4 linked regions of the Homo sapiens genome follow. The protein of the gene in region 2 interacts with the protein of the main gene of each other region in a biochemical or structural test. Each region holds a gene or a part of one and is shown on either strand. Other genes may lie near its edges. The genes, in order: AMFR, UBE2G1, ZRANB1 and UBA1.

Region 1 (7,000 bases), on a different chromosome or scaffold from region 2:
GGGAAGAGGCTAAGGAACAAAGAAGGATACCCAAGAGCTTCCCAGAACACTCAGTGCCAGCAGCAAGGCCAGGCTGAGGTAATGTCCCCACTCCTCCACTAGGATGAGTCTCGAGCCTGGGTACACAAAGCACACACACGCCCTGGACAGAACACCTGTCCCACATGGCCCTTCACAAAGCTCCTACTTGTGGAAAAGATGTCCACAGGGCAGTTTCCGCGCAGCCTGCATGGAGTCCCAACAGATGGCACAGTCGTCATTGTTGACAGCCAGCTCCTCTGGAGTTGCAACTGCAAACCTGTGGAAACAAAACAAGCCCAGCAGGAACCTCAGTCAGTTCCACACGCACACTAAACACCACTTGATAGACTGCGCCTGTATCACAACACAGTTACAGAGAAAGCATGTTCAGCAAAACATTCTTGATAATCAAAAATATAATTTACCTTCAAAGCCCTTTCAAAAGTGAGTAACTTATGCACAGGAACTTTGTCTAAATAATGGTTGCTAGGCCGAGCGCGGTGGCTTATACCTGTAATCCCAGCACTTTCGGAGGCCGAGGTAGGGGGATCATGAGGTCAGGAGTTCAAGACCAGCCTAACCAACATGGTGAAACCCCGTCTCTACTAAAAATGCAAAAATTAGCCGGGCGTGGTGACAGGCGCCTGCAATCCCAGCTACTCAGGAGGCTGAGGCAGGAGACTTACTTCAACCTGGGAGGCGGAGGTTGCAGTGAGCTGAGATTGTGCCACTGCACTCCAGCCTGGGTGAGTGAGACTCCATCTCCAAAATAATAATAATAATAATAATAATGGCTGCTGTTAGTGAAGACCTCGGAGACCATATCCGGACAAATCAGAGGAGTAAGGCCCCCAGAGATCCAATCTGTGTCCCTGGCCACAAAGAAGAGATCCAAGCTGTCCCCCTGGGTGCAAAGAGGATACCCATTAATCTTGCACCTCCAGGCGTGGCTTAGCCCCAGCTTGGCAAAAAAGTGCCTCCTTCAATGAGGTTAAGTATGTGTGTGTAAACATGCATGTGCAAAGAACTGAGACCCACTTTCAGGAAATGAACAGGGTAGAAGCCCAATGAAGTGTCTATTTGATAATAATGACAATAAAATCATGACAAATAAGAGCCTAATACTGAGCACTATCTGCCCAGTACCATTCTAAGTACATGAATTATCTCACCAAATTCTCCCAATAGTTCAGGCAGAAGGTTCTGTTTTCATCCCTAATTTAGAGGTGAAGTAAATTGCCCCAAATCACACAGCACCTAAGTGGGGATTCACACCCGGGCAGTCTGACTCCAGAGCCTTTCCTCTCCACCACTCTATTAGCAGTTTACAAACATACATTCTGACATACTCTGGGATCTGCTGTTATTAAAAAACTAAAATGAGTAAACTTAGGCAACATCAACTTGTGCTTCCTTACCTGGCCTCCATGTTTCCAACCACACGTAGATAGTTCTTGTGCCGACGAATTCGACGTTGCACCTCATGAAACAGGTAACGCAGCTGCATAAAGATGACCAGGCTGGCCATGGATAACCAGATGTTGCCAAATAACTTAGAGAGAAAGAGAATAAAACACACGGTAAAAGCGAACGTGAACTTGCTAGTGATGAAGGCGCAGTATGCAGCGGAAGCTCTTCACTGTTGGTGATGGTGAACTGCAATGTCTTTCAGAAAGGAAATACACAGATTTATCTCATTACTCTAAACAATGCACATCCTCGTCAGCCTAGGTGCTCCAATGCCAGTCATCTTTCCTGAGAAACTCATCAGAAATGGAAAAGCTTTATGCAAAAAGATGTCTATCCATGCAATTATAAAACAGAAAATATGAAAATGAACAAAATGCCCAGAAGAACAGTTAGGTTGTAAACTCATGTAATGTAAAATTATATAGTCATTAATTTCACTTATTATACTATATAACTACATATTACTATTATATTTGTATATATAACAGTTCTGAAGGTCAATTATGGGAAGATAGTACTAGATAAATGAAAAAAGCAAGATATAACTATCTTTATCAAACTAATACATGATAAAAAATATGTAAAATGTGAAATAGCAAACAACCAAATATAATCTAAATAACCCATTGTGGGATGCGGTTTATTAAATCATGGTACAGCTATCTGATGATATTTTTATCCTGAAAGTATTAAAATGGCTTAGAAGAACTGATGTTAGCACAGGAAAATGTTCATAATACATTAGTTTTTAAAGAACAGAACTATATGTCTAAAATATGATCTCAATTTATGAATGTATGTACTCAAATACATAAAAAGAATCAGTTAAATACAAAATACATAAAAATACAAAATACATAAATACAAAAAATACATAAAAAGAAGCAGTTAAATACAAAAAATACAAGCATGAGGAAAAAAAATTTAAAAAAAGAAGATAAAAAATCTTAACAGTTATCTTTGGCCATTTGTTTGTCCCCTTTTTGAGGGGGGAGGGAGGCTTTTTTTTTTTTTTTGGGACGGAGTGTCACCCTGTCGCCCAGGATAGAGTACAGTGGCGCGATCTCAGCTCACTGCAACCTCCATTTCCCAGGTTCAAGCAATTCTCTGCCTCAGCCTCCCCAGTAGCTGGGATTACAGGCATGAGCCACCGCGTCCAGCCGAGGCTCTTTTTTAAAAAAAAGAATTACATACTTTCTTTAAAAAGTATGTTTTCAAAGTTTCTTTCAAAAAGTAGACTTAGAAATGTGCCACGTCTAGCCCAATAATTTTAAAATGCTACTTGCTAGGCTTATAATTTAAATAAATTGCCCACCAACTATTTTAATTCTCACCATTATTAGATCACTGAAGGGCCAACCAATGAAGCAGATCTACGACACCGTAACGTCTAACATACCAAAGTAAAATGTAAACAATGATGGTAGTAGGAATGTAGGAATTAAGTGTAAAGACTTTTTTTAATTACAAAGATGGAAAATGTATAAATCTGTGAAGTAGCTAACACTGCAGGAATTCCCATTACCACCTACAAAGTACCTGCTAAATATTTAAAGCCATAGAAACTATGGGGAAAGGCAGCTCCTTAATTTCATGCTAAAAGAATAATCTATTGACTTGGTCAGCAGAGTTAACTAAGTCTCCCAGGACAGCAAACACCTCCTGAGTTAGGCACCAGCCAAAGCAGTTCCATGGCACTGCCTTACACCCAGTGGCAAAAAGAGGGAGGGTTTGCAGCCACATTCATTTTTAGTCTTTAAGTAGTCCATCCACATCTTATTTCTAAAGTTTCATTTTTTAATGAAGAAACCATTACTGTTCCTGATTCTGAAAGGCTTGCCCTCTGTTAGAGCTCCTTCTGAGGAAACTTACCAACATGTGAATATGGTGCATGAGGTCCAGGGACAGGAGAGTGAGCTCCATGACAAAGTCTGTGTAATAGACATACGTCCCCTTTCCTTCCCACGTCCCTTCGTGGTTGAGGTCCCAGAGGTGAATTACGTATCTGTAATGAAGAGAGAAAACACCTTAGTAATTTACTGTTACTACTGAATTTGGTTTAACCATGTTGTAATTTAGTCCGATTTTTATATATTTCATACCTGCTACATCTTAAAATCAACTGTATGAGTAGGCCTCCATCACCTCCCTCCCCAATTTCACTCACCGTAAAATCACATGAGCAGTCCTCACTGTCACAAGAAGAGACTATAAAAAAGGATATTTTCTTTTTAGTAAAATGTAGCATTGCTCAGGCCAAACTTTTTATAAAATGATAAAAGACAAACATTTCTCAGTTCAATTAAAAAGCAGATTGTTCAAGTTTACCCATTATTTTATTTTCTCTGCTTCAAATTTCTGTAAAATATTTTTATGACCTAGAAACCCAACTTTTATTGAGGAAAAGTCCTGTTAATAGGTGACAACCAATTACACCTACCCCCCAGGAATCCCCCTACAATCTTGAGGTTTACCCTGGTAGTCTGACCATCAATTCTATTTCACACAGCATTAAGTCACTATCACTGATTACTTAGAAGGGTGATGCTGTAACTCCAAGTATAGTTCAGGTACTGCTATCCTAGACACGAGGACCTGCTCTCTCCCTAGTGCTTTGTGCACTCCCTTTGTCCACCAGCAGAAAAAAGAACGAAAGCAATCAAAAGCAAAATAAGGCCAGCCACATCACACCTTTAATCCCAGCACTTTGGGAGACCGAGGCAGGAGGATTGCTCAAGCTTAGGAGTTCAAAACCAGCCTGGGCAACATGGTGAAACCCCATCTCTACAAAAAATACAAAAATTAGGTGGGCATGGTGGCACGTGCCAGTAGTCCCAGCTACTTGGGAGGCAGAGGTGGAAGGATGGATTGAACCTGGGAGGTGGAGGCTGCAGTAAGCAGAGATCGCACCACAGCACTCCAGCCTGGGTGAGAGAGCCAGACCCCAGACCCTGTCAGAAGGGAAGGGGAAGGGGAAGAAGTGGAAGGGGAGAGGGGAGAGGGGAGGGGGGAGGGGAGGAGAGGGGAGAGAGAGGAGGGGGAGGGGGGAGAGGGGGGAGAGGGGGAGAGGGGGGAGGGGAGGGGGGAGAGGGGAGAGAGGAGAGGAGAGAGGAGAGGAGAGAGGAGAGGGGAGGAGAGGAGAGGGACAAAATAAGTCTCTCATGGCTTTTTTTTTTTTTTTTGTAGAGACAAGGTCTTGCTATGTTGGCTAGGCTGGTCTTGAAGGGTATTTTTTTTATTACAGAAATTGACGGCCAGGTACAGTGGCTCACACCTGTAATCCCAGCACTTTGGGAGGTCGAGGCAGGCCGACTGCTTGATCTCAGGAGTTCAAGACCAGCCTGGTAACATGGCAAAACCCCATCTCTACAAAAAAATCAAAAATTAGCCAGGCATGGTGGTTCATGCCTGTGGTCCCAGCTACTAAGGAAATGAGAGGATCACTTGAGCCCACAAGGTGGAAGTTGCAGTAAGCAACTGCACTCCAGCCCGGGCAACAGAGTGACACCTTGTCTCAAAAAAAAAAAAAAAAAAAAGATATTTTTCATTAAGAAAAAAAGTCCTCTTAATCTAGTAGAATAAAACTATTACATTATTTATGTTTTAGATTAAATTCCCATTTGTAAGTGAAAAATATTTTACAGGAGAGAGAAACACTATGAATGTAAGAAATGATTTAGTTTAAAATATCAAATCTGTAATATGATAAATTATCTTAAAAGAATAAACAGTAACAAGCTAAAATAAAAGTATATACTATAGTATGAGCTGACGGGCCTAAGTTAAATGTGCTTATTTTTAGGTATACCCTTTTCAAAGTTTGGATAATATTATATTAGTTGAAAGTTAGAGAATCAAAAAAAGGCAAACATAAGTATCATTCTAACTTTGCAATAAATCTAAAGCAAATAAGTCAGTGTAAATGGATTTTTCAACAGATTTTCTGTCAAGACGAAATACGGTTGTATATTTTTCATATACAGAAGTATTCACCTAAGATTACATATCTTATTATTTATATTAGGACTATTGTATTTTAATTACAATATTATAATATGATAATTAACATTATGTATTTAAATGTTTCTTTTCTAATTTTACTTACACTACTAAATGTACTCAAAAATGAATGCTATCAAACAGAAATAAACTTTAACTCTGCTCTACCAAATTCCCAATGAGTAGTTCAAATGTAGTGTTTTGATATTAGCCAATTAGCTTCAGTTTATCTAATATCTCATTTTTTAATTAATAATACTAATTATGGGTAAGATAAAAGTATTTTGCCTTTGGCCTGAAGAAAAGGCAAATATAGCCATTAAATATAAGGACATACAAACAATTTTTATTTCTTTTTTTTTTTGAGATGGAGTCTCGCTCTGTCACCCAGGCTGGAGTGCAGTGGCGCAATGTCTGCTCACTGCAACCTCCGCCTCCCGGGTTCAAGCAATTCTCCTGCCTCAGCTTCCCAAGCAGGTGGGACTACAGACGTGCGCCACCACGCCCAACTAATTTTTTTTTTGTATTTTTAGTAGAGACAGGGTTTCACCATATTGGCCAGGCTGGAGAATTTTTATTTCTACTGAACAGAAATTGGTATTTTCAGAAAGGTTTAAAAGAGTGAAAAATTTTTAAATCTTAAAATATTCATGAATAGACCAGATTTTTCCTTCAAAATGATGAGTACAGTTTATTCATTATTTTGTAAAATCTTTATACCCTACGTAAAGAAAGAGTTACATAAAATACCACACAAAAGCATTCAGTACCAGTACCCAACACACAAAAAGGAACTGAAATGCTTGTTAAAATGAAAGACCAAATATCCACCTGTCATTTCATGGGTGAAAATAACTTGTCAAACATCCAGCTTCCTTGAAAACAGACAGAAATACAATCTGAGCAAGTCCTGCATCCAGTATCTCACCTCTGCAGCCATGAAAGCCAAGGTGTGCATTCCGTGGGTGTAGCCGGTGATGGAGCAGACGGCCGCCAGTCCACAGCAGGAAAGCAGCATGGCAACCAACAGGGACAGGACTCGACCGTGGCTGCTCATCGGCGTGGTGGGCGAGAAGGAAAGCTGAAATGCACACAGTAGGAAACTGCTCATTCTTCTTCATGGAAGTGTTAAACTTCACTGAGAAATTCAAGGTCAATCTTGGCTTCTCTGCTTAGGGTTCTGTGCTAAGCACAGAAAAGCATCCCATTACTATATGGTCCTATTCTCCAATAACCCAAATATGAGCATGAGGTGATATTTAGAGATCCGTGTCATTTAATTTACTGAGTATAACAATATGCATTATATTTTCATCCCTTACTCTCAAAGATCCTCCTAGCACTGGGATTATAAACCTCTAGAAGCAATGTTCCGAGGGTATACAACTCTCTCCTCTCACCTTCAACAGGACTCAGGACAGTGCCTGTTCTGTTCTGTTTCTTTCTCAATCTTGCTCTAGTCCTCCTCTCTGAAATTGGCATTCCTAGTCTATTAGGGCTAGCACAATTG
Region 2 (3,960 bases):
AGCTGGATGTTGATATCTTGTGTATCTTGTAAAGAAGGTTCTCTACTCAGTCTTGCCTCTTTTGTCAGTAACTTACTAAATGACCCCTGGGCAGGTATTGGCGCATTTTCCCGTCTGTTTAGAGGACAGAGGTGGTGACTGAGATGGTGCCTGCAGTCTCTTCCAGTTCACATTTGAGTCTGGGTTCCTCACCTTTCAGCTTACCTTTATGGTAGAGCCAGTTTAGGCCAAAGACAAAATCCCCAATAATGTTCTAATAAGTGCTCACTCGAAGGTTATAAATCACAGTGCACACAAACTCTGAGTTAAAACGGTGCATGGCCACGTACTGGAAATCTAAAGAGCATCATTATCAGGTTGGAAGGCAAGTTAACTTCTCTGGTTCCTTCTTTAAAGTCTGTAAAATACAAGGTTTCCCTGTGGTTCCTTTGGTATCATGTGCTGTTTATACAGAAAGAGTCCCACAACTTGCTTTTGAGACCTGCATCCTAAAACCAAAATAGCTCGTGATACAGCCTCTAAGTCATCATTTATTGATTTATAGAGCACTCATCACATGAATGAGGTGCTTTACAATACAGTAAACATCACAACAGAACTCACATAGTTAAATACAATCAACAAATTACAGAACTAAAAAAACTGAAATGAAGCAACATTATGTCAAATTTCAAAGATGCTGAGAAGTGGCAGTACAAAAAAGGTAATTCCACCAACTGGAGACCAGACGGGCAAAGATACACAGGCACCACAGCCCAAAGCGGGCAGATTCGTCGAGGGTGAGTGGGCATATCAAATAAAATCTCACAACCAAGAATGAAGGCCGTTAAAGATACTGACACCCACGTGATCACAGTACTAGTGGAATAACCTCACAAACATGTTACCTTAGTATGACACGTCAACCTCATATGGATTTTAAACTCAAAAAAGAGGCCAGAAAGCCACTCAGATCATCTATCCCATACAAGCACAGACTGAAATCTATATGCCTCTACGAGAACTTGGAATAAATTTAGGAAACAGCCAACAGTTCTACAATCCATAAGATCTATGGAGATGTTGTTGATGGTTGGCACAAGTTTAGGGGGAAAAATCATTTTCCTAAAGCAGAGAGGAATCGCCTCACACTGATGAGGCACTGGTGGGACAAAAGCCACCTCGTTCAGTGTCACCTGAATGTGGGTTTCGTATCAAATGTAGAGGCATTTAAATTTACATTATCAGATGAACACTGAGAAAGGCACAGATGACATCTCCGACAGAGGAAGGGAAGTTGTAACATCTATGTAGGCCTGTTTCAGTATGTAACACACTCAGGGCAGGTGGAAAAGCATGTGGAGACGCACTCATGCCTGGCTCTCACTTCCACTCCCGTAGAGCTAGCCCTAAAAAAAAAACCCACATGGTTTTATCAAACTAACTGCATTAAAGTGGCACTTAAAGTTCAAAAATAGTTGTCCCTGAGTTACTAGGTCATTTGCTGCTTGCTGAAGAGTCAGATCCCAAGTTTCACCTCAACAGATTGCTAGCAGAATTATAGCAATAGGAGAGCAAAATTTGAACTCCGTTTTGCCACAAGCAACCACCATGTGAACAAGTTCTGATTTTAAAAGGGAGGGATCCCATCTCTTAAAAGAATTTTTTTGTATTAGCCAGGCATGGTGGCATACACCTGTAGTCCTAGCTACTCAGGAGGCTGAGGCAGGAGGATCACTTGAGCCCAGGAGGTCAAAGCTGCAGTTAGCTATGATCGTTGCCACTGCACTCCAGCCTGGGTGACAGAGAGACCCAGTTTCTTAAAAAAAAAAAAAAAAAAGTAAAAAGGATTGTATTCCAAGTCCCTGGAGGGTGTGCAGTGCTGACATTTTGGGGCAACTATTTTTACAGTCTTTGGAAAAGGAAAAAAAAAACCAAGTCACAAAGTTCTTAAAGAAAACTGGGTTCTAATGAATCAATTTCCAGTCACAACACACTTACGAGTTTCTATAAGGTTTGTGGGTTTGTATAATGTTTACAGGTTTTTATAACGCTTCAGAGTAGAGGACAGGGACTTAGAAAAAAATCACTCTCTACTGTGACTACATCCTCAACCATTTTATTTCTGCTTAAAAAAGGACATACAACGTTTGTAGAGGTCTGGGCTCTTGGCAGGAGTTCTTTCACTCTTCTGCCAAAGCATTTCTCCAAACCCCACAGAGCAGAGATGCACGAATTCTCACTGATTCTCACAATCAAACACCATGTCCCATCTGCTACTGTCTCAAGTTCTATCCCTTATAAGCCAAAGACTACTTCCCACACACAACCTCACAACAAACATGAAGGAGCCTAAGGCCTGCCTTTAACACTGCACATGTTCATTTTACCATTTGCTGAAGTTGTTTTAGAAAACTGTATGATATGAAATATATTGAAGCTCAAACATTAATCACATCCAAGTGTACTATTGTTAGTGACGGGATCTATACGTCAAATAGCAAAGCATTTACCCCTGTAATGCTTTTAGATTCACAGAAGAATCTAGATAGAACCAAATACATATACTGCCATGGCCATGTGATTTTCAAGTATTAAAAGTTCATTTGCATAAGGAATCAACCTGAGATTTTCCTAAACCACTTCTCTGGCACTCAGTATTATAGCCTTCATTCAATACAATAAAAGCCAACAACTTGACAATTATTGAAAAAAAATTATATTTTGGAAGAACTCACTACATAAGGTGACAGAATTCCAAAATCAAATTACATGAAAATATACATCGCAATTTCTTTGTACAATAGGTGAGAAAAATCTGCAGTATAGAAGAATAGAGGCAGAGAAATATGAAGGACTAAGGAGAAGGGTATGAGAGTAAATAGGATTTGTAATAGCAAACCCAGAAGTTAAGTAGAAAGCCTGTAGCTGTGCATGCTTCATTTATCCAACCTTAATACCAGGCAACTGAAGAGGGAAAAGTCAGATTTGCTATTGTTTGGGGAAATTTTCAGTAAGTTGAATTAAGAACCATCTATTTTTAGTTCTCAGGGGTAATGACTGGGATCAAGAGCTCACAACGGCCAATAAATGTTATTGCTATATCCAATCCAAGAGGTGGGTGCAACTAGAATACAAAAAGGACAAAGCACCTAGTGATGACTCCTTCGAAGTCATCATTAAAAATCAAGTAATTGCTCATTAAGTATTTCAGTATTTGAACTAAATCATTTGAGAACATTCTGGCAGGTAAGAGATAAAAGCAAAGGGGAGTGTGTCAAAACAAAGAAGATACAAAAGTTTAGTAAGTGAAAAGAGTTTAATGAAGCCTCAAGGGTTTAAGGGAAATTAAATGGAAACTTTTAATCCTAATTGCTTTTCATCTGACATGCTTAAAGGAATCCTTTTAAACTGATAAGAAACAATGAATAGGAAAGAAAACCTGCTAAAATCTCTTAGAATTTACACGATTCTTATTCTACTACAAGAAAGCATTATTTGGTACAAGGTGTATTTGTGGATGTACATGAACAGTATATATATTATCCGGATCATGTTGTGCTATGTACAGGTCTTTACAATTCTTCCTGAAGGTTAAAACAGTTCATTAGAATTCAAAATGCGTAATCATCTGTAAGTTGGCACTTGTTAGGCTCTTGTCAGCATTGATAACTGGCATGTTTTATTGCAGCCCAGTTCCAGCCAGTGTTTGCCAACTTGTACAACAGAAGTCCAGCAATAGGTGGGTAGAGTGCAGGAAAAACAGTGCCATGTTTCTCAATTGGAGACCTACAACAACAAAAACAACATTATATAGTCAATTCATCAATTACAAAAGAATTAACTGTAAGTAGGTTTTATCCATATTAGATTTATTTGACAACAAATCCTTAATTTCATTCTGAGCTCACTTTGTTTCTATCTATTATGGTAGCTCACAGCCACGTGGGTATATTTAATTTTAAATGTAAATTAATTGCC
Region 3 (7,756 bases), on a different chromosome or scaffold from region 2:
CATGTTGACCAGGCTGGTCTTGAACTCCTGACCTCAAGTGATCCACCCGCCTCGGCCTCCCAAAGTGCTGGGATTATAGGCATCAGCCATTGCGCCCCACCGAGAATTATTTCATTTCTTCAGTTCTCTATGATTGTTTAGTAGGTGGTTGGGGAAATTTGTAGTGTAGCTACAATTTTGAGGAATTGACTTCAATATAAATATAATTCTTGTACAGTGTTTAGTAATGCTTCACAAATATTAAACATGACAGTATAAAAAATGTTCCATTATGTAAGTCCCTTTCCCCCGCCTGCTATTAGTACATATACCATATTTCTGCACTTTTATTATCTGAATTGGAAAGTATATAATTAAAAACAGTTACGAATTTAGTACTTGTCAATTTAGTAGTAGTAAATGGTTGATATATTTAGAGACATTATTCATTCTACAGGCAGAGCTTGATGCACAAATGGATTCCTGGTCTCCTTGGTCCACAGGATGGGAACTGTTGGTATTGCATTTGAACCAAGGAATATTTGTCTTAAGAGTAGCAGTTTTGTCCCGTTCTCCTTAAAGAAGGCCTAGATTATGTTGATTTTATTGTGGTTTTATTTTACCAATTAATTGAAGTTTGAGTCCTTGGATAGAATTTGCAAATCTGCTTTGCATGCAAAATTAAACTTGTAAACTAAATTTACTTGGGCGTATGAATATATTTAATACTTAAAGTGATATTTGGTAAGTTTTATTTCAAGGTAGAGTATTAACTTTTAGAGCTGGCTACTTTGGAAATAATTTTATGTACTTTTTGGAATGTTTTGACATCTGGAAAAAGTGTACTCTGTTAATTTCTTTGTAATACTGCAAAAAAACACATAGTTCAGTTGATGTTATCCTTACTGTTCAGTGCTGTTTACTAATTACCACAGGTAGAAATGGCTGTCTCAGATAATCTTCAATGAATTTTTTCTTTTCTTTTTTTTTTTTGAGACAAAGTCTCACTCTGAGTGCAATGGTGTGATCATGGCTCACTGCAGCCTCAAGTCCCCTGGGCTGAAGCGATCCTCCTGCCTCAGCCTCCTGAGTAGCTGGGACTACAGGCATGTGCCACCACCCTGGGCTAATTTTTGTATTTTTTGAAGAGATGTGGTTTTGCCATGTTGCCCAGGCTGGTCTCGAACTCTTGGATTCAAGCAATCCACCTACCTAGGCCTCCTGTGCTGGGATTACAGGCGTGAGCACCTAGCCACTCTTCAATGAATTTTACCTTGCAGTTACTAAACAACATTCCTGCAATGTTTCAAGTTCTCTCAGAGTGAACACTGTACATCATTACGTTTTTTTTTTTTTTTCCTTGAGACAGCCTTGCTCTGTCATCCCAGGCTGAAGCACAGTAGCACAATCATAACTCACTGTAGTCTTGAACTCCTGTACTCAAATGATACTCCTTCCTTGGCCTCCTGAGTAGCTGGGACTATAGGCACAGGCGACTGCACCTGGCTAATTAAAAAAAAGTTTTTTTTTTGGTCGGGCATAGTGGCTCGCGCCTGTAATGCCAGCTCTTTGGGACGCTGAGGCAGGTGGATCACTTGAGGCCAGGAGTTTGAGACCAGCCTGGCCAACACAGTGAAACTCCGTCTCTACTAAAAATAAAAAAATTGGCTGGGCATGGTGGGATGCGCCTGTGGTCCCAGCTACTCTGGAGGCTGAGGCAGGAGATTCACTTGAACCTGGGAGTGAAGGCTGCAGTGAGCCAAGATTGTGCCACTGCACTCCAGCTTGGGTGACAAAGTGAGACTGTCTCAACAACAACAAAAATCGTGTTTTTTTTTTTTTTTCCTTTTTTGTAGTGATGGAGTCTTGCTGTGTTGCCCAGGTTGGTCTTGAATCCTGGACTCAAGTGATCCTCCCACCTCATTCTCCCAAAGTGCTGGGATTAAAGACTTGAGCCACTGTGCTTATTATCTAATATAAGGCACATCTCAAAACTCTTGAGCTTGGTTTTGGTATTGCTTAGTTACCTGGATTTTCAGAGGTTGGTGGGCTAATTAGGCAGCTGTCTGTCCATTATTTTACCAGGCATTTATGACAGTGATTATTTTTTATGACAGTTTTTTGTTTGTTTTTTAAATCAGCCTGGACATTTAAATATATTGTGCCAGCATATTAGTTACATGAAGATTAGCTAAGATAACATAAGGTTACGGGCTGTTTAGTTGCACCTACAAACATAGTAAGACTTATCAAAACAAGTATGGATTTTGAATGTGAATATTTTAAAAGATATATTGAAATTACTTAGAGTAGCCCTGGATATATGTTCATTATGGCATTTATCTTGTTAATAAGTTTCTACATGCTCATTTTAATTTCCAGTAGCATGAGCAAGTAACTTATATTTCATTCCCGAGAAACTAAAAGAATCTGCCTAAAGAGTATGAAAATTGCCATTAAATCTGTATTGTCTACTTTCTGGATGGTTATATCATTATAGTTCTCTGCTCTTCCACACATTTTTGGGCTGCTATCAGTTTGTAAGTAATCATTATACAAACTAAATTTAAAAATTTAAACAAGATAATTTTATATTACTTGGATCAGGGAAAAAAATGCAGTTGCTGAAGGTGGTTTCATAGCTAAATATAAGCAATTATTTTGCTTTTTCTACTTTTTTGGATTTTATCATCTTTTCCCTTTTAGTAATAGAGTAATACAGGTAGGAATTAACTTAGCACTGCCAAATTAATAGTAATATTAGAACTGTGTACACAGCACAGGGTTAAGGTTATATAGAAAAATGTCTCATCCATGTTTAATTTGGCTGACCAGCCCAGTTGATTAGCCAATTTTATTGTTTTGTTAAATTAAAATTCTAAATATAGTTGTCCATTGTTAAAATAAGTGAGTAGGGTTAAAATAGAGAATTGATAAAAATAAAGCCTTAAAAATCTTTTAGCTAAAGTAGCAGGCTTCAAGTGAAATTCAGTTTTGGTCTCCTTTACAGGAATAGCTATTCAGTCAGACAGAACCACTTATCACGTTTTGCAGTATCTCCTGAGGAAGTCAGAATTCTGAGCCAGCATGAAGACGGAATCTTGTCTTTGATCTGATTTGCAAACCGTACTTTTATTCTAATCATGTGCAAGGTGGAGGTTATAGCGTGGGAACTAAAATCTTAGTAAGTGTGGTTTTTATTTTAGCTATTAAGTAGTATACTTTCTTATAGTGATTTTTTTTTCTTCTTAGCAGAGTTCACACTATAAATGGTGTATGGACTTGGCAGGCAGGAACATAATACAGTATACTTCAAAAGTGAAAGATTTAGGCCAGGCGTGGTGGTTCATGCCTGTAATCCTAGCACTTTGGGAGGTCGAGGTGGGTGGATCACGAGGTCAGGAGTTCATCAAGAGAAGCCCGGCCAAGATGCTGAAACCCTATCTCTACTAAAAATACAAAAATTAGCCGGGCATGGTGGCATGCACCTGTAATCTCGGCTACTTGGGAGGCTGAGGCAGGAGAATCGCTTGAACCTGGGAGGTGGAGGTTGCAGTGAGCTTAGATTGCACCACTCCACTGCATTCCAGCCTGGGCAAAACATAGCAAGACTCCATCTCAAAAAAACAAAAATGAAAACAACAACAACAAAAAAACAAACAAACAAAAGATTTAACCCTCTAGGTTCAGGAAAAATCCCTGAGAAAGAGAGAGCAAAGCTTCTATACTCTGCCTAGGATTTCTTTCTCTTTCCGGGTGAAAAATAGGTGTTGGGATGATACTGAGTTGATAAAAGTATTTAGGAAAAGTGGCCAGTGTCTAAATTCAAGCCATTAAAAAAAAAAAAATTAAATTTGTTATGTAAGTTGCTTCATTTATGAATTAGTTGCCATTAAATTATGAAGTCTTTCTTCATTATAGTGTAGTGTTAGCCCATTGTTGAATCCTAGAAATCTTTTAAGTAGTGTGAATATCTTTTAAATATGAATTGGATTTTTTGGGGGGCAGGGGATGGAGTCTCACTCTGTCACCCAGGCTAGAGTGCAGTGGTGCGATCTTAGCTCACTGCAACCTCTGCCTGCCGGGTTCAAGCAGTTCTCTGCCTCAGCCTCCTGAGTAGCTGGGATTACAGGCACCTACCACCATGCACGGCTAATTTTTGTATTTTTATAGAGACGGGGCTTTACCATCTTGGCCAGGCTGGTCTTGAACTCCTGACCTTGTGATCTACCCGCCTCAGCCTCCCAAAATGCTGGGATTATAGGCTTGAGCTACTGCCCCCGGCCATGAATTAGATTTTGAGTATATTTTAAATATTCAAAATTTAAAATATTTTAATTATGAACATTCACAATTATATTGGAATGATTATGCTACTGGTTATTTCAGTGACCTTCCACAGATTTAATTTTCCCCAGTACAGTCTTCTTTTTTTTACTCCAGATAGAACTAGATTTTGAGGCTACAGATTATCAAGGAACTACCTATTTCATAATGTTACTTTGTTAATTGTAGCCATTACTTCTCAACATGTTTCTTTACTACCTGTGCTAATTAAGAACAGTGGATAATTAGCATTTTAAGTTGCTTTTCTCCCTTAGCGAGAATGATAAAATAGACGTTGCTTGATCTTCTGAATTCATGAATCATAATCTGTGTTCATAATTTGAGAATGGTTATGTGTTTAAGCTATTTTTTAGTTTGTGTTGTTTCCTCTACCTTTGTCTCTTTAAACTATTGGTTACTTTTCTAAATTGATGTGATGGCCTCCCTGAAATTAAACATTTCTATTAGTGGCTTCCCGTTAATCTCATCCTTCTTAGATCAAACCTCGTTATATCTCCTGCCTATCTCTTTTGCATTCCAAAGTTCAGTTTTATTAAATCCCAGGGTCTAAGATTTTTTCTTTGAGAATTTATCTCCAGTGTTTCTATGGAAATTAAAAAAGAAAATTAGGATAATTCAATGTCGAAATGTTGCATGCATCTTTTGAGAAATTTATATTTTGTAGGTTGAAGGACTTGCTTTTTGGGCAGCGTATTTTTGGAGGTGGAATGTAGTTATTTTAATAACCATGTCCTAATTATTTATAGCTTCCTGCCTGACACAGCTCACTTCAAGAAGTGCACAATGTCAGAACGTGGAATTAAGTGGGCTTGTGAATATTGTACGTATGAAAACTGGCCATCTGCAATCAAGTGTACTATGTGTCGTGCCCAAAGACCTAGTGGAACAATTATTACAGAAGATCCATTTAAAAGTGGTTCAAGTGATGTTGGTAGAGATTGGGATCCTTCCAGCACCGAAGGAGGAAGTAGTCCTTTGATATGTCCAGACTCTAGTGCAAGACCAAGGGTGAAATCTTCGTATAGCATGGAAAATGCAAATAAGTGGTCATGCCACATGTGTACATATTTGAACTGGCCAAGAGCAATCAGATGTACCCAGTGCTTATCCCAACGTAGGACCAGGAGTCCTACAGAATCTCCTCAGTCCTCAGGATCTGGCTCAAGACCAGTTGCTTTTTCTGTTGATCCTTGTGAGGAATACAATGATAGAAATAAACTGAACACTAGGACACAGCACTGGACTTGCTCTGTTTGCACATATGAAAACTGGGCCAAGGCTAAAAGATGTGTTGTTTGTGATCATCCCAGACCTAATAACATTGAAGCAATAGAATTGGCAGAGACTGAAGAGGCTTCTTCAATAATAAATGAGCAAGACAGAGCTCGATGGAGGGGAAGTTGCAGTAGTGGTAATAGCCAAAGGAGATCACCTCCTGCTACGAAGCGGGACTCTGAAGTGAAAATGGATTTTCAGAGGATTGAATTGGCTGGTGCTGTGGGAAGCAAGGAGGAACTTGAAGTAGACTTTAAAAAACTAAAGCAAATTAAAAACAGGATGAAAAAGACTGATTGGCTCTTCCTCAATGCTTGTGTGGGTAAGTTTCTGTATTCTGCATTTTTTGCGTGGGATGGGAAAAGGTAGTAAAAATGATATGAAAAGAGCTGGGTGCGCTGACACACGTTTGTGGTCTTAGCCACTTGCTTGAAACCAGGAGTTTGAGGCTGTAGTATGCCATGATCGGTCTGTGAATAGCACTTGCACTCCAGCTTGGGTAACATAGTGAGACTGTGTCTCCACGCACATGCAAAAATGTGAGTGTGTGTGTGTGTGTGTATATATATATGCGCAAAGTCACTAGCATTTGATTCATTCAGCACGATAGCTGTACTTTCAAGTATGCATACATAAAAATTTGTGTATTTGTGATCTTGTCGTAACTTTGTACTAAATTGCCCACAATTAATTGTGTTCATGTCTCTCCATTACTGGGGGCAGTGGAAACGTTTAAGTTAAAGCAAAGTTTTTACACATCAGCAGTAAAATATATACCTGGACTTTAAAACTGCTACTCTGTTTATTGTAACAAGATGTAACTGAGGAACACCAGCTGCTGTTTCCAAGTATTTGTAAACAGTGTGAGCATCTTGTGATGATAGAAGCTTTAGTCAGATGTTAAAAATACCACAAAAATGTGTGACTCCAAGAAGTTGAACAAACATATTGACCTTGAAAATACTGGTGTTAATTTAACATGAATGTCATGTAGTAAATGTTTGCAAACTTTATGGAACTGATTACATGTAGCCAGCTGATTCCATACTTCAAGTTATGGTTCATATGTATTGTGACATTTTCCTCAGGAAATGCTGTTAAAGGACAGAGACATAGGAGAGCAGAGTTTTTCTTCAGTTCTTGACCTTGTGAGTTAATTGTGATGTAATTCACAAAAGCAGTGACTTGAGTCTTCAGTATTTTTTTTTTGAGTAGATTAGATGTTTGATTTTTATTAAATTATTTGGATGGGCTGCTTGCTTTGACATTTGGTCTTATGAGGGAAATTTTGAATGATTACTAAGTTTAAACTTTGTGTGGAACAATAGCTAAGCTTTAACTATACCTTAGCTGTATGTTTTCCCTCAGTACCAATTTCTTTTATTTATCCCTCTGGGTACAGCCCAAGAATATGGAAAGTTTAGGTGTATGAACCTGTGAGTCCTAGGAATTGATTTCCAAGAAATCGTGAGTTTTAAAATTAAATTATATATATCATTCCCCCCCCCCCCCCGCCCCAAGATGGGATCTCACTCTGTCACCCAGGCTAGAGGGCAGTGATGCAATCATGGCTCACTGCAGCCTCAACCTCCTGGGTTCAAGTGACCTGCCATCTCAGCCTCCCCAGTAGCTGGGACTCCCCATTAGCATGTACCACTATGCCCTGCTATTGTTTTAAATTATTATTTGTAAAGATGGGGGTCTACCTATGTTGCCCAGGATGGTCTTGAACTCCTGGGCTCAAGCGATTCTCCCACCTCAGCCTCCTAAAGTGTTGGGATTATAGGCATAATTTGCTGTGCCCAGCTGAAATCCTGAGTTTTCAATTTTAGCTTTGTTCTGGCAAAAAAGAATATCCCAGCAGATGAATCCTTCTGACCTCCAGACTTAGTAGGCACTTAGCAAGTCTTAGTTCTAGTTTCCTCCCATCCTGAGGATGAGGGGATGAAAACATACCGGGCTATCTTCTGTCTGTGTTGTCCCATTTTATTCCTCTGATTTTTCTGCTCCAAATTGAGGGGCAACATACAGTATGATTGTCAGTTAAAAAAATTTAAACAGGAGATACAAAAGGGTTTTGTTATTAGTTTCCTTAGAGATCAAATTGATTTAACATAAAAATTCACCGTTTTGCAAGTGAACAACTCATTTGGCA
Region 4 (7,043 bases), on a different chromosome or scaffold from region 2:
GGCAGGAGAATCGCTTGAACCCAGGAGGCAGAGGTTGTGGTGGGCCAGAGATCACGCCACTGCACTACAGCCTGGGCAACAAGAGCGAAACTCCGTCTCAAAAAAAAAAAAAAAAAGAAAAAGGAGGAAAGTGAGACGACAAAGCCCCAACCTCCTACCCTACTCACCGTGACATCCCAGGGCCGGAAAAGAAACTGTCGATTCAGATTTGACTTCTCAATGGTGTCCATGTCTGTAACGATGATTTCTCCACCCTCCCCGCAGCCCAGCCCAATCATGGCAAAGTTCTTGAGCAGCTCACAGCCAATGGCCCCCGCACCCACCTAAGAAGCAACCAAGAAGACAGGCAGAGGCTGGTCAGGGTGATGCAGGTTAGTGTGAAGCTACCCATCACCCCTCACTCCCCTGAGAGACGGGGAGAGGGGCTAACACCACATCTTCAGGTTGCAGGACTCTAAGAAATGACACGCAGTCATGTGAGGAAGGAGGCACCAGAAGGGGAAACGAGGGATGCACTGGGCTTCCCTTCAAGATAAGGAGAATGGCAAAGAGAATGCGCCACCGGTTGCATTGAGATGCCGAAGGAAGCCCCAGGGGTGATGGCCAGAGGCCAAGATGAGGGGAGCAGACATCCAAGGGGACCACTTACCAGGAAATACTTCTGCTTGCCCAGCTTCTCTTGCAGGTCTGAGCCAAACACAGCCACTTGCCCGTCATAACGGTTCTGGCGCTAAGGAATGCAAAGGGAGGAGGGTTAGAGAGGCCTCCCCAGAAATGTCCCCAATGATGCCCTCCCCACAGGTCCCACCCACATACCTGGAGGCACTTGTCCTCTGTGAGGACCTCTTTGTCCTCAGGGAGACACTCAAGGGCATCAAAGTATAGCCACTGCATGATGGGCATGAACTTCCCGGAGCAGGCCTGGAGAGGGGAAGGGAGAGAGGGGGTGGTCAGTGGTTAACAGGGGCCTGACACAGACAGAGAGCAAGTGACAGAGTCATGGAGGAACCTGGCCCACCCCAATCCTGCCTCTCCCCACCCGTGCTGACCTTCATGACTTCCTGGGCAGCCAGGCCCCCAATGAAGGCGTTTATGGGTGCCAGATCCCCAGCAGCCACATATGCCAGCTTCCGGATGAGGTCCTCGTCCAGGTTATTTTGCTGCACTGCTGGCAGGGCTCGAGCATTCACAGCCTGTGCTAAGGCTACCAGTTCTGCTGCATCCTCCTGGTGGGCCAGAAAGAACCAAGAGAGGATATGTCAGGCCACAGTGAGGGCAGGGAGTGTGGACACGCAGAGAGGCATGGTGAGCCTGCAGTGCCAGGCATGTCTGCGCTGGCTGGCTCGCCCACTCACCCACCTCATTGCGGGGCCGAGGTGGCCGGCCATGCTGAGCACAGAACTGGTGCAGGGCCTGGAAGCCAATGTGCAGCTGGGCAGGGCGAGAAAACTTGGCGAAGTCCGTCACCACAAAGTCAGGTTCTGCCAGTGAGGCCACCAAGGATTTCTGTGGCGGGGGGAGAGGTCATCAGAACCAGAAGAGAGGAATGGAGAACTAGGGAATGCCTAGAACCACCCCCCACAGCCCACTGATCCCATCGACACACTCACAAAGCTAATCTTCTTAGGTACTTTGACCTGACTGACGATGCCTCCACGGATGTAGTCGGAGAAGTTGGAGGTGTCACAGATGCTAAAGGTATAAGGACCTACAGAGGGCAGGAAGAGAGCTGTCAGTCTACCCATTCTCCCTAAAATCCACAACCCCTGCAAGATAAGGAACCTCCTGCCCCGACTCAGCTCAGACATCAGAAGCTGTCTTCCCTCAGCTCCAGGCTCCACTTGGACATCAGAAACCATCTCTCCTGTGCCCCAGACTCAGCTCAGACCCCGTGAGACCCTGTGTCCCTGGCTCCAAGTCTACACGGGAAGACCTTCTCTGCTTCCCATCCAAATCAGCTCACACACAAGTAGATCCGCTGATCTGCCCTGTTCAAACACCAGAGACTTTTTCCCCACTCAGCTCAGATACCAGGGACACATTCTCCCAGGAATAGCTCAAACACAGTACCTCTCCCCCATGCCCACCAGCTCTTATTGGACCCCACAGGATTGTCTGTAGTTCATCTCAAACACCAGGATGTGTCTTCCCAACTCTGAACCAAGGGCCATGTCTTCTCCCTTCAACTCCCCGGCCAGAACCCAGGAACATATCTTCTAGTTCCCCTCTGCTTCCCCCATGGTCGCAGCTCACCCAGGACTTTGATCTCCATGGGCTGATTTCCGTTGAGTTCAACCATGCCCTGTACTTCTGAAAAGGAGACAAAGTCCCCGCTCTCAAACCCGTGTCGGGCCTCATCCAGGCAGGTAACCACACCGGGGTTGTCCTGGTTAAAGGAAGAGTGAGTCTCAGAAACAGGCCCAGGGTACCAAGAGCAGACAGGAAGGACTACTGCAGCCCACCTGCCTGCCAGGAACCCTAGGGCTGGTCTCCTTACCTTGGTAACCATAGAAACCATAGCACTGAGTGGCTGCTCCCCATTGGAATCTGTGAGGATCATTTCCTCTCCAAAGTCACAGAAGAGCTGCCTGTAGAGGGAAGCAATAGGGCTGGTGCCTGTGTCCCATGCACATACAGGTCCCACGGGTCCCTCAAGATGTAGTGAAAACTTGCTGAGCAAACTCAGCCTATCACTGCTGGGATGTAAGATGGTACTTGTGCCACATGGGGAGAGATGAAAACACAGAACCCAAAACCTGGGTAGCTGAGAAGGGATGAGGGCAGGGAGAGCCTAGAGTCTTGGCCTGGGCTTGGTAGGAGTTGGGGGAAAAGGGGACAGGGAGGGAGGTGGGCTGCCACTCACCCAAACAGGCCCCGCGTGTCTGCCACCACCAGCTTGATGCCACGGTTGTGACAGAACTCACCCACTCGCAGCTGGTCCTCCAGGGGGGTGTTGGTGAGCACCACCACCTGTGGAGAGATGGAGGCTCAGGCCCAGCATTGGGGTGAAGGGGAAAAAATGGAGGGCTGGTGTGGAGGACTCAGGCAGTCCTCAAGGCAAACACATCCAGGCTTTGCTGGGTCAGCCTCTTTCACAAACACATAGCACCTACTGTGTATCAGACTCTGTGGGGGTCGAAAATGAACCCCTGGACTATACCAGGAAAGGTGAAGAGGTAGCTGGGAGGAGGGAGTTTGGAGAAGAGCTGACTCATTTATTTGACAAACACCCGCTGCTGTCTGTCTGCCATGCCCTGTGAGACACTGGAGTAAAACTCTGTCTCCAGCCAAAGTCTGAGCTCACTCCTACCACACCCACCTGCTTCCAATTCTCAAGACGACGCCTGCTCCGCCATGATCTTTGGGATTTTGCTCTCTGCCTGAATGTCCATCCTTCCCCACCAGGGTGAGCTCCTACTCCTCCATCAGGATTTAGCTGCAGTGCCCTGGCAACCTGGGATACTCCAGGGACAACTCTCAGCTTCCAGAGCACCTCTTTCCGGCCTGGACTTTTTAATTAACAAACACCCATCCAGTCCTTATATGCCAGCTGCAATTCCACGTGTTTAACCCTCACAAAAAGTCCATGAAGTCAGTGCTGCTACCACGCACTGACTACAAACAGGAAAACAAAGGTACAGGAGATGAAACAACCTGCTTGAAGTCACACTACCAAGGCTGGAGGCCTGCAGCAAGGCAGTATGGCTCTACAGTCTGTGCCCACAACCACTATGCTGTACTGTCTGTACACATCTTCCCCACTTGAAAAGGCGGGGCCAGGCCGGGTGCGGTGGCTCACACCTGTAATCCCAGCACTTTGGGAGGCGGAGGCGGGCGGATCACAAGGTCAGGAGATCGAGACCACCCTGGCTAACACAGTGAAACCCCGTCTCTACTAAAAATACAAAAAAAAATTAGCCGGGCGTGGTGGCAGGCGCCTGTAGTCCCAGCTACTCGGGAGGCTGAGGCAGGAGAATGGCGTGAACCCAGGAGGTGTAGCTTGCAGTGAGCCGAGATCGCGCCACTGCACTCTAGCTTGGGCGACAGAGCAAGACTCCGTCTCAAAAAAAAAAAAAGAAGAAAAGAAAAGGCAGGGCCAGGGGCTAACTGCTGCCTGCATACTCTAGTCCCCCAGCACAAAACCTGACATTCAGGCCGACCCATTAAATCAATATTGAACACTACTGAATAAACCAGAGATGGGCTCTGAGAAAACTGGGCAGAAGGCTGGGTAGTACCCCCAAGATACCTGGAAACCACTAAGGAAGTCCTCAACGAGGGGTCCAGTGTAGGCAGTGACAGGCACATAGCTGTTGAGCTCAGCGAGGCGGGGCTGTGATACCTCGGCCCGGTTTTTACCGATGTCCTCCTCCCGCAGGTAGAACTGTAAGGGTGTGCAGTAGGGAAAAAGATGAAATGGCTGTGGCACCGGGAACAGTGGTGCCTCGGGAAGGGGGAAAGGGGGAAGGGTGCTAGGAAGAGGTACCTGGGAGGAAAGATCAGCCCACTGGGCAGTGCCCTGGTCATGTAGGGTAACAGCCTTGACCCCACCAAGGATGATGTTCTTAGCGATCTCCACGCCCAGGCCCCGCAGGCCTGATACCAGGACACTGGATGTCTGGAGCCGCTTCATTGCCTCATGGCCCAACACATACCTGCCAGGTTAGGGGGTACTCTAGGTCAGGGCCTGCCCCACCCAACCTTATCCTCTCAATGTCCCATTCCACACCCCTCAGCCCGGCCTTGGCCCCACTTACAGCTGCCGGGAGTAAAGGCCCTCGTCTATGTCTGCTTCACTGCCGTTCTTGGCCATTCCCTAGGAATAGAGGAAAAGAACAAGTTTAGGGAGACACACAGGAGTGGAGCATGGATAGACAGACAGTGATACAAAAGACTTTCCCACCCACCACCTCGTCTGCCAGTCTCCACGGAGAGGACACTCACGTTGGTTGGCACCGAGGGCACTTCGGACAACACGGACTGGGCAGGGGAGCAGTTAGAACCCGGCTTTGGATCAGGCCCGGACACGCGACGTTTCTTGGACAGCGGCGAGCTGGACATCTGGAGGAAAAAAAGGTCAGAGGTGACCCTGGAGCACATGGGTACCGTTTTTCTGTTTGTTAGTAGCAACTGTGGGGGAAGGGAAGACTTAAGTATTAGTACCCCCATTTTACAGCAAAGAGGGGACAGGCACAGAAAGGTGAGGACTTGCCCAGGGTAACACAGCTGTCAGACCTAAGATCTGAACCCAGGTGGTCTGATTTGCAAATCCACACTGCTGACCACTAAGCCATTTGCTTCTTCCCAGCCCAGCATAATGAGGGAGAGACTCCAATCCTGGAGTGAAAGGAATGACAAGAATGTACTTGTGTCGAGGTCAGGGGAAGGATGTGGATTCAGGACAGACCTGGTTTCAAATCTTGAGCCTGCCACGCACTAACAGTAATAATTAACCGCCACAGGCCTCAGTTTTCTCACCTGTGAAACAGGGGTGATAATACCACTTACCTTCCCCACGGGGTTATCGAGATGATAAATAACACAGAGCATAGAACCTGGCACAGAGTAGGTAGGCAGTAACAAGCAGCCATTCTCCTCTCCCTTAATCCCAGGGATGGCGGCGGGAGCGGGGAGTGCAGGAGGGAAGTGAGGCTTGGACATCCATCAGGGTGGCATGATGGCAGGAGCGGTAACTTGCTGAGAACCCAGTCCCCAGAGGGGCTCAAGTTTTATAAAGCCCAACCCTGCCCCCAGCTTTGGGAGGGGAAAACCGACACAGACCAATAAAAGAGGTTGCAAAAAGATAGAAAACAAACACATCCCAAGCCTCATCTGCATGCGGAGTCCCTTAAACAGGTTAACCACAATGATAAATGAGTATTAGATTGATCAGGAGTCCTCCTTGTGCCAGATGCCATAGTAAGCACTTCTCTAAACCTCGTCTCACTCTGTCCTCAGGGTACTCCTGTGGGGTTTGGACTGCTATCAATAATACCCCCAACTTTAAAGTGATGGAAAAAAATTCACTCAGGGACGTTCGGTGACCAAGGTTCCCACACACTGAGCTGGGACCAGACCAGGATCTGCTGACTCTGAAGCCCAGGCTGCTTCCTCGTGTTATCACGTTTCATCCCCTCCATGACCCTGACCCAGCAAGGCAGAGTTTAGTGTCCTTGCCGGACAAATGAGAAGTAACTTGCCCAGGGTCACCTGCTAGGTCCCAGAGACAGAACAATAAAGCCTGCTGTGGAAGTGAAATCTGGTGGTGGGGGTGACTGGGTCCACATGCTGGAGATGGGAGGACCCAGCGTCACTTCCCCTCACCCCAAGTGCTCCTCTAGGCACTGAGTCTTCTGTTCACACAAGTCCTCCCACACTGAGACTTTTATGACACTAAGTATCCCAATGTACCTAAGATTCCATCTTGGCACTTGTCACTAGCACCAACCACAATGACAAGAGCTCCCTACTATCTACCAAGAGCATACTGTGTGTCAATCAAAGAGGAAAGGGCTTTGTCTAATCTTAACAATCCCCATGACCCAGATAACCCTATGCCCAAATCACAAATGGGAAAAGAAAGGCTTAGAGAACCCCATTCACTCGCCCAGAGGCATGCAGCTGGTGGGGGACTGTTTGCCAAATGCCCCTGGGCTCAGGGCCCAGTCCACAGGGCTAAGGAATGGGAGATGAGGGGAGGCAGCAGGCTGGCTGGAGCCCCTGAGATAGCCAGGTGAATTGCTTAGAATGCTAAGAGCCAACCTGGGTAGCAAGAGGCTTGGTGAGTTAGTAGAGACAAAGGTGAACCATATTTTCCATTTACTGACTCTCTGACTGACCTGGGGTAGAGATCTCATTTCCTCTGAGCCTCATTTTCTCCAAAAGCTGGGACAAATGAAACTGTCTTCAAGGGGCTGCTGGCAGGGTTAAAGAAGCCAAGGTCTGTGGTCAGAACTCACTGACCTGAGGATGTGAGTTCCTCCCTGGGCACGTGTAGTGGCCTCTATTACTTAGTTATCTCCTTGCCTTGTCATTGGTCAGTT

What was found.
Region 1: the proteins of UBE2G1 (region 2) and AMFR form a complex in vitro, tested with the Homo sapiens proteins (7 studies listed by BioGRID, with this or other methods).
Region 3: the proteins of UBE2G1 (region 2) and ZRANB1 form a complex in vitro, tested with the Homo sapiens proteins (one study listed by BioGRID).
Region 4: of the proteins of UBE2G1 (region 2) and UBA1, one has a biochemical effect on the other in vitro, tested with the Homo sapiens proteins (3 studies listed by BioGRID, with this or other methods).

Annotation. Positions count from the first base shown.
Region 1 is NC_000016.10:56,401,546-56,408,545, forward strand, and holds part of AMFR (E3 ubiquitin-protein ligase AMFR), read right to left. Parts: intron 6,572-7,000; coding exon 6,419-6,571; intron 3,700-6,418; coding exon 3,659-3,699; intron 3,497-3,658; coding exon 3,364-3,496; intron 1,574-3,363; coding exon 1,440-1,573; intron 299-1,439; coding exon 188-298; intron 1-187. UniProt on the Homo sapiens protein: E3 ubiquitin-protein ligase that mediates the polyubiquitination of lysine and cysteine residues on target proteins, such as CD3D, CYP3A4, CFTR, INSIG1, SOAT2/ACAT2 and APOB for proteasomal degradation.
Region 2 is NC_000017.11:4,268,749-4,272,708, forward strand, and holds the end of UBE2G1 (ubiquitin-conjugating enzyme E2 G1), read right to left. Parts: intron 3,769-3,960; 3' UTR 511-3,768; downstream 1-510. UniProt on the Homo sapiens protein: Accepts ubiquitin from the E1 complex and catalyzes its covalent attachment to other proteins. In vitro catalyzes 'Lys-48'-, as well as 'Lys-63'-linked polyubiquitination. May be involved in degradation of muscle-specific proteins.
Region 3 is NC_000010.11:124,937,385-124,945,140, forward strand, and holds the start of ZRANB1 (ubiquitin thioesterase ZRANB1), read left to right. Parts: upstream 1-4,738; 5' UTR 4,739-5,072; coding exon of another isoform or gene 5,073-5,109; coding exon 5,110-5,923; intron 5,924-7,756. UniProt on the Homo sapiens protein: Ubiquitin thioesterase, which specifically hydrolyzes 'Lys-29'-linked and 'Lys-33'-linked diubiquitin. Also cleaves 'Lys-63'-linked chains, but with 40-fold less efficiency compared to 'Lys-29'-linked ones.
Region 4 is NC_000023.11:47,196,821-47,203,863, reverse strand, and holds part of UBA1 (ubiquitin-like modifier-activating enzyme 1), read right to left. Parts: exon of another isoform or gene 6,874-7,043; coding exon of another isoform or gene 6,840-6,873; exon of another isoform or gene 5,662-6,839; coding exon of another isoform or gene 5,509-5,661; intron 5,474-5,508; exon of another isoform or gene 5,408-5,473; intron 5,062-5,407; coding exon 4,945-5,061; intron 4,817-4,944; coding exon 4,758-4,816; intron 4,656-4,757; coding exon 4,487-4,655; intron 4,385-4,486; coding exon 4,250-4,384; intron 2,971-4,249; coding exon 2,864-2,970; intron 2,589-2,863; coding exon 2,498-2,588; intron 2,387-2,497; coding exon 2,254-2,386; intron 1,709-2,253; coding exon 1,611-1,708; intron 1,507-1,610; coding exon 1,360-1,506; intron 1,227-1,359; coding exon 1,050-1,226; intron 922-1,049; coding exon 817-921; intron 731-816; coding exon 650-730; intron 324-649; coding exon 168-323; intron 1-167. UniProt on the Homo sapiens protein: Catalyzes the first step in ubiquitin conjugation to mark cellular proteins for degradation through the ubiquitin-proteasome system.